Linked DNA regions of Homo sapiens: region 2 is linked to region 1. The links come from fine-mapping of genetic effects on gene expression. Tissue or cell type: whole blood. Region 1 holds a variant in brackets; the other region holds the start of a gene. All regions are shown on one strand. Distances are from middle to middle.

Region 1 (2,500 bases):
GTAGGGAAGCAGTCAGGGATAATTAACAACAACAACAAAAAACCTATCAAACAATCAAAACAAATGAAACAGAAAACCCTATTAACAAAACCTAAAAACAAGCTGGGCTTAATAGCTTGCATTTCAAAACTGAGGCCATGGAATTATACTGGTGAAAACAAAGTAAATAACAAATATGAATGCCAAGTCAAAATAATTTGCCATAAAAGATGAACAACAAAAAAAAACCCTGTTAATGTTCAAATAGATAATTTAAAAGTACCTGACTGCTAAAAACAAAATTTACAGAGTACATACCCATATATCCTAAAAGGGACACCAGCCCTCATAAATGAGCTTTTAAGAGTTTACTTGGCCGGGCGCGGTGGCTCACGCCTGTAATCCCAGCACTTTGGGAGGCCGAGGCGGGCGGATCACGAGGTCAGGAGATCGAGACCATCCCGGCTAAAACGGTGAAACCCCGTCTCTACTAAAAAAAAAAAATACAAAAAATTAGCCGGGCGTAGTGGCGGGCGCCTGTAGTCCCAGCTACTTGGGAAGCTGAGGCAGGAGAATGGCGTGAACCCGGGAGGCGGAGCTTGCAGTGAGCCGAGATCCCGCCACTGCACTCCAGCCTGGGCGACAGAGCGAGACTCCGTCTCAAAAAAAAAAAAATAAATAAATAAAAAAAATAAAAAAAAAAAAGTTTACTTACTGTGAGTATACGCATGACATAAATTTTCAGGCTGAGGAATAACTGATTAAAAAAAAAAAAAAAATTGGGAGTTCGGAGAGGGGAAATAACTCAAAGTCCCTTTAAAATATTTGCAAGAACTCTTTAAGTTTCTCTACACTTTGATGGTTGAATAATTTTCTGAAGAAAATTCTTAATTAAATCCTTGCATAAAATATAAATTAGAATAAAGTAAAATCATTACAGTCCTTTGCCAGTATAGTTACACCAAGAAGTTACATCTTCAACCTATAAACATTTGTTGATTCCTAATCATATCTTAATTGTTTATAAATTACTGGCTTAAATTATTACCAAAAAAGTAGGACAAGTCTTAAGACCTTGAAGAATTCCACTAAAAACAGATGGTAAAAATAAAATGTTCTACTTTAGTTAATAGTATTATACAAAGGTTAATTTCTTAAGTTTTATAAATGTTCTATGATAACGTAAGATTTTAACATTAAGATTAATATAAGACATAAAGAACTGTTGTATTTTTACAACTTTTCTGTAAACCTAAAACTAGGTCAAAGAAGTTAAATAAAGGCTCAGTTTATTAGGATCTTACTTCCTTTATACTAGTAAATGTGCTATGAAAGAAAAATAGCATTTTAGGTTTCCCATCTTTAGTTACCAAGTATATATATAATATACCTAACTTTGACTGCTTTGCTATAGTAATTATTTTTAATGCTAAAAAAGACAAAGCAAATTTCTAGAGAAA[T/C]AAATCAATAAGCACTTTTTATTAACTTTTTTGACAAACCGATAGTAAAACATATGCTACCTAACGATAACTGTGTCCCTTTATGTATGAGTCTAAGAGAAATATTCGGATTTTTATCTGGACAAGAAATTCAAAGGCTCCTTAAGAAGAAAGTAAATACCATGGTCACTAATGTAACCAGACTAAATATAAAAGCTACATATGTATGTGTGTGTGTGTGTGTATAAATCAATGTTTTGATCAATGTAACTAATCTGAGGTTACAATAACTCACTGCTTCAAATAATATTTCAATTACATGTAACAGATTAAGATACTGTTTAGGGGAAAACAGCCTCAGAAGGAAGTATGAACAAAAAGGGATATTAATCATTACCTTTAATCAAACTAATTATCAACCTTTCCCCCAACCCATAAAGACTTCATGTCTCTAAATGGTTCCTAAATCATGGAAGATAACTTGAAAAATTTTAAATACATCTCCAGGTATCAGATGCTTATGTACTCCATGTGGGTCCAACTTTTACTGCCCAGAGTTTCTTGTCATGGTAATGTAACATCATGAAAGTCTGGTTGCCAGATCTTTATGTTTTTATTTGTAACAGAGCTAAACCTTTTAACAATTATATTAACTACAACTAAGTTATTTGCTAATGGTAGTAGAATGATACATATGTTTTATTCACGAAAATAGTACTTCTGCAAATTTTTCTTTGTAAGAATTCCATAAATACCAAGGAAAAGAAAAGACTCAAGGGGTTTGGGAAATAAACCCCTTTTAATTTTAAATCTACATAAGTTTAATTTATTCCCAAACTTTCTAAGTTCTTCCAGAGTTCTGGCCTTCAGAATATTTCCTAATTTTTCTTCTTGAGTTCTGCACTAACTCAAAACCTATCCAAACGATCTAATTCTGTATTACCTATATTTAATATAAAGTACAATATATAGTCAACATTGTATCACTAGAATTGTGAAGCTCTTCATGACTTTAAAAAAAAACTCCAAAACAATTAAGCTATTTTTATTTAACATGTAATAGTCATAAAGCAACTCCATAT
Region 2 (3,032 bases), 23 kb after region 1:
CGTCATTTCGCTAAAGTAAATATACTTATTGGAATTTCTCTGCTGTAACTAGTACTGCTGACCACCCAAGTTTTGAGACGGTTTTCCTGGTCGCTTTCTGTTTCCTAGGCACTGCACCAATTCACACATGGATACAGACTTCCAACAAATGACTATCGCCCCTGAACTTTATTGTCTCATAAGCAAAGCGTCAGTCTTTCCCCTGTATTCTATATTAAAGTAGAATATCTGCAGACATAAGTGCAATTAATGTTTTACATAGGCTGCCAACACCAAAGGGCTTTAAAATCGTTTCTCGATTTTGTCATCGACTGAAATCTCACAATTTTCCTCATGAGTAGCATCATATTTGCATCATAAAAATGTCAGTGGCGGTAACTTGAGTATTGCATAGGTTGGATTTTCCTTTTCCTTAAAACTCTGTATCAATGGTCTTATTTTAAATAACGCTATCAATTTACCTGTGTGCCAAAAATAAGTATTTCAAACATCTCAGAGGTGAAGAGTTCAAAAGGCATCAGTTTTCATCTCCTCCACAATAATGAAGGATGTTATTAATACAACCTCATTGAACTGAGCTTCTCTATCAAATGGGTCTAATTAACATTACATGCGTCCCAGGGTGGTTATGAAGATTAAATAAGATAAAGCAATAATGGCTGGCATGCAGAAAATATAAACTAAATGCTAGTTCAATCTGAAAACGTGTTGTCACTTCTCACGATACGCAAGGAATCATCTCACTTCTTTGTCAATCAAAATTTCAATTCACTGATCATTTCCCGTCCTTCACCTAATAGTCATTTTCGCTTTGGATCCTTAACTCGACATCTAGGTGCTGTAGATGACATTCACTCATTTTATACGGGAGTAGGCATGGTAGTAAAACGTGGAGGCCACAAGAAGAACAAGCAACAAATGCCGCTAGTAATAAAAAGATAACTAACGTACCACCAGGATGAACCTATCAAAACAGCGTGAAGATACAGAGTAATGTCCCTTACCAAGAACACTTGTAAGAGGTTTGTAACAGCGGATCGACTGAACACAAACTTCTACAAGGCAGAGCTTACATGCTAGGACAACCCGCTGCTCATCCCGGCCACCTCTCCCTCTCGCGCAGGCAATCACAGCCATCACTACTTCGGGAACTACAAAGCAAGCTCACCAGTACCTCGTTAATTTTTGCTTCCCCAGAGACTGGAGGGCCAGAGGAGAAACGTGTTCGTTCTAAATTCCAGGCGACTTAAAAGGAGTGCGGGGACGACGGGGGAAACACGTGGATCCATGGGAGCGTCTCTCTCCGCAGTGGCAGAGGACAGTCAGGCGCCGGGGCCGGGCGCTCGCCAAGGGAACGCGGCGCAACAGAGGGGCGGCCGGCGGGCTGCGCGGGCAGCCAAGGGAGGCCCAGGAGGGGCATGGACCTGGGGCCGCGCGAGGACGGCTGCAGGAGATCCGCGGACACCCTCCGGCCCAAAGGGCCTCCCCTGCTGATGAGGTGGAGGGGAGGGAGGGCTGGCGGCGCGTTCCTCTTACCGTCGGAATTGGTCTCAGGATCGAAGCGCTGACCGCAGCCCCGGTTGTAGCACAGCAAGGCCATTTTCTTTTCCCACCGTCACAGGCAAGGCCCAAACACCGGGAACGGCAAGAGGATGCGTTTGCCACTCCCGTGTCGCTAGCACCGGTCTGACGACTGAGGCGGCTACCGGCTTCCGGAAACGATCCGTTGCGTTTCAGGAACCTTCGCGAATTTTCCGGTCGCGCAGGCGCAGAGGAGAAGGGACGAGGCGGAGGTAGCGGCGGGAGGCTGGCACTAGCCCGGGCCACGATAGGTCGGACTACAGCTGGTAGCAACTGGGGGTCGGAAGTGGAGCCCAGACAACAGCGGAGGAGAAATTTCCGGGGCAGAAAATGAAGGTGTCCGAGAGACTGACAATTCTCTTCTGACTTCCTCAGTGCTAACTGGCTTTGGGTATCTCCTGCAGCAAAGTGGCCGCCCCGCCCTCTCATCCCCTGCGACCCAGCACCCTTCTTCCTTGCCTTGAGGCTGCGCCTTAGACAGCCCGGTGGGTATCTGTTTACCCCTTAGCACTAAGGGATAAGTGCACAGTAAGTGCAGAATCATACAGTGTTTCCAAATCCTCAGGGTAGACGTGTGAGCTTAGTAAATGAGAGGAATAGCGGACGAACCTCTCCGTGTGTTTGTGTCTCGAGTGCCCTCATCTCAGGAGCAATTTTAATAACTTAACAGTTGCGGTCACATTACTTTGAAAATACAAAAAACGTAGAAATCAGAGTAGCAAAGAAAATTATGGATCTGATGCTGTGCCAGAATTGATCACAGTTGCTCTAAAGCCCTGGGGTAATAGTTAATATTTCATGTGAGCCTCCACTTAAACGATTTATCAATACTCAGTACACCACTCTTGGAACAGCTAGTAAAACTTCAGGTGCATTATAAAAAGTACAGTAATGCATTGGCTTCAACTTGCATATTTCCCAAACATGGGCGTTTGCAAGAAAAGCAAACACTTTTTGATAACATATACTGAAGGATCTTAAAATAAGATCAGCAGCTTATAAGTGAACCTAAAAATCTATACACTGTTTCCATTGATCTCAAGGTTATTTAGAGATCTGCTCACGTCCTCCTACCCCTAAAGACTTTTTAGTTTTTCATATTCTCTTTCTCTTCTTCTACCTAGAAGTATTAAATTTTCATATTGTGATCCACCATAGATAGGTATGTTTTCTTCATTTAACCTAACGTGAGTATTTTTCTATTTTGTTTCATAGTCATTGTTACAAATGACGGAGTATTCTGTTGAATAAATGCACTGTAATTTAACCTTTCTCTAATTTCCCCAACTTTATTATATATAAGTTACAGTGCTCAACCTGTGTATTGTTTTTCTTATTTCGAATTTCCCCCTTTAGGAAAATTTTTGGAAAGCGACAGTTCTGGGGTAAAGGGCATAAGGCTTTTTAAATAACTTTAAGATTTTAAAGATATATAGAGCCAATTGCTTTCC

Which allele goes with the higher level. Alleles are on the strand shown, and positions count from the first base shown. SD is a standard deviation of normalised expression in the study named.
In carriers of allele T in region 1, the expression in whole blood of the gene that starts at base 1,695 in region 2 tends to be higher than with C alone (small effect, 0.10 SD a copy in GTEx).

Evidence for each region. PIP is the estimated chance that this variant, and not a neighbour inherited with it, causes the effect. A credible set is the group of variants that fine-mapping cannot tell apart.
Region 2: CHORDC1 starts here. The variant in region 1 is the best candidate, but not a certain one, in a credible set for the expression of CHORDC1 in whole blood (GTEx, PIP 0.53).

Annotation. Positions count from the first base shown.
Region 1 is chr11:90,199,002-90,201,501 of GRCh38, forward strand. CHORDC1 (cysteine and histidine rich domain containing 1) reads right to left here. Exons shown (of 11, transcript NM_012124.3): 11 at 1,428-2,500. Among named protein-coding and RNA genes, the nearest start is that of CHORDC1, 23 kb to the right of the region's middle. The variant T/C (reference allele first, on the strand shown) is at 1,440.
Region 2 is chr11:90,221,355-90,224,386 of GRCh38, forward strand. It overlaps CHORDC1 (cysteine and histidine rich domain containing 1), which reads right to left and starts at 1,695. Exons shown (of 11, transcript NM_012124.3): 1 at 1,537-1,695. The coding sequence starts at 1,600. It overlaps LOC124902812 (a long non-coding RNA gene), which reads left to right and starts at 1,805. Exons shown (of 2, transcript XR_007062978.1): 1 at 1,805-2,066.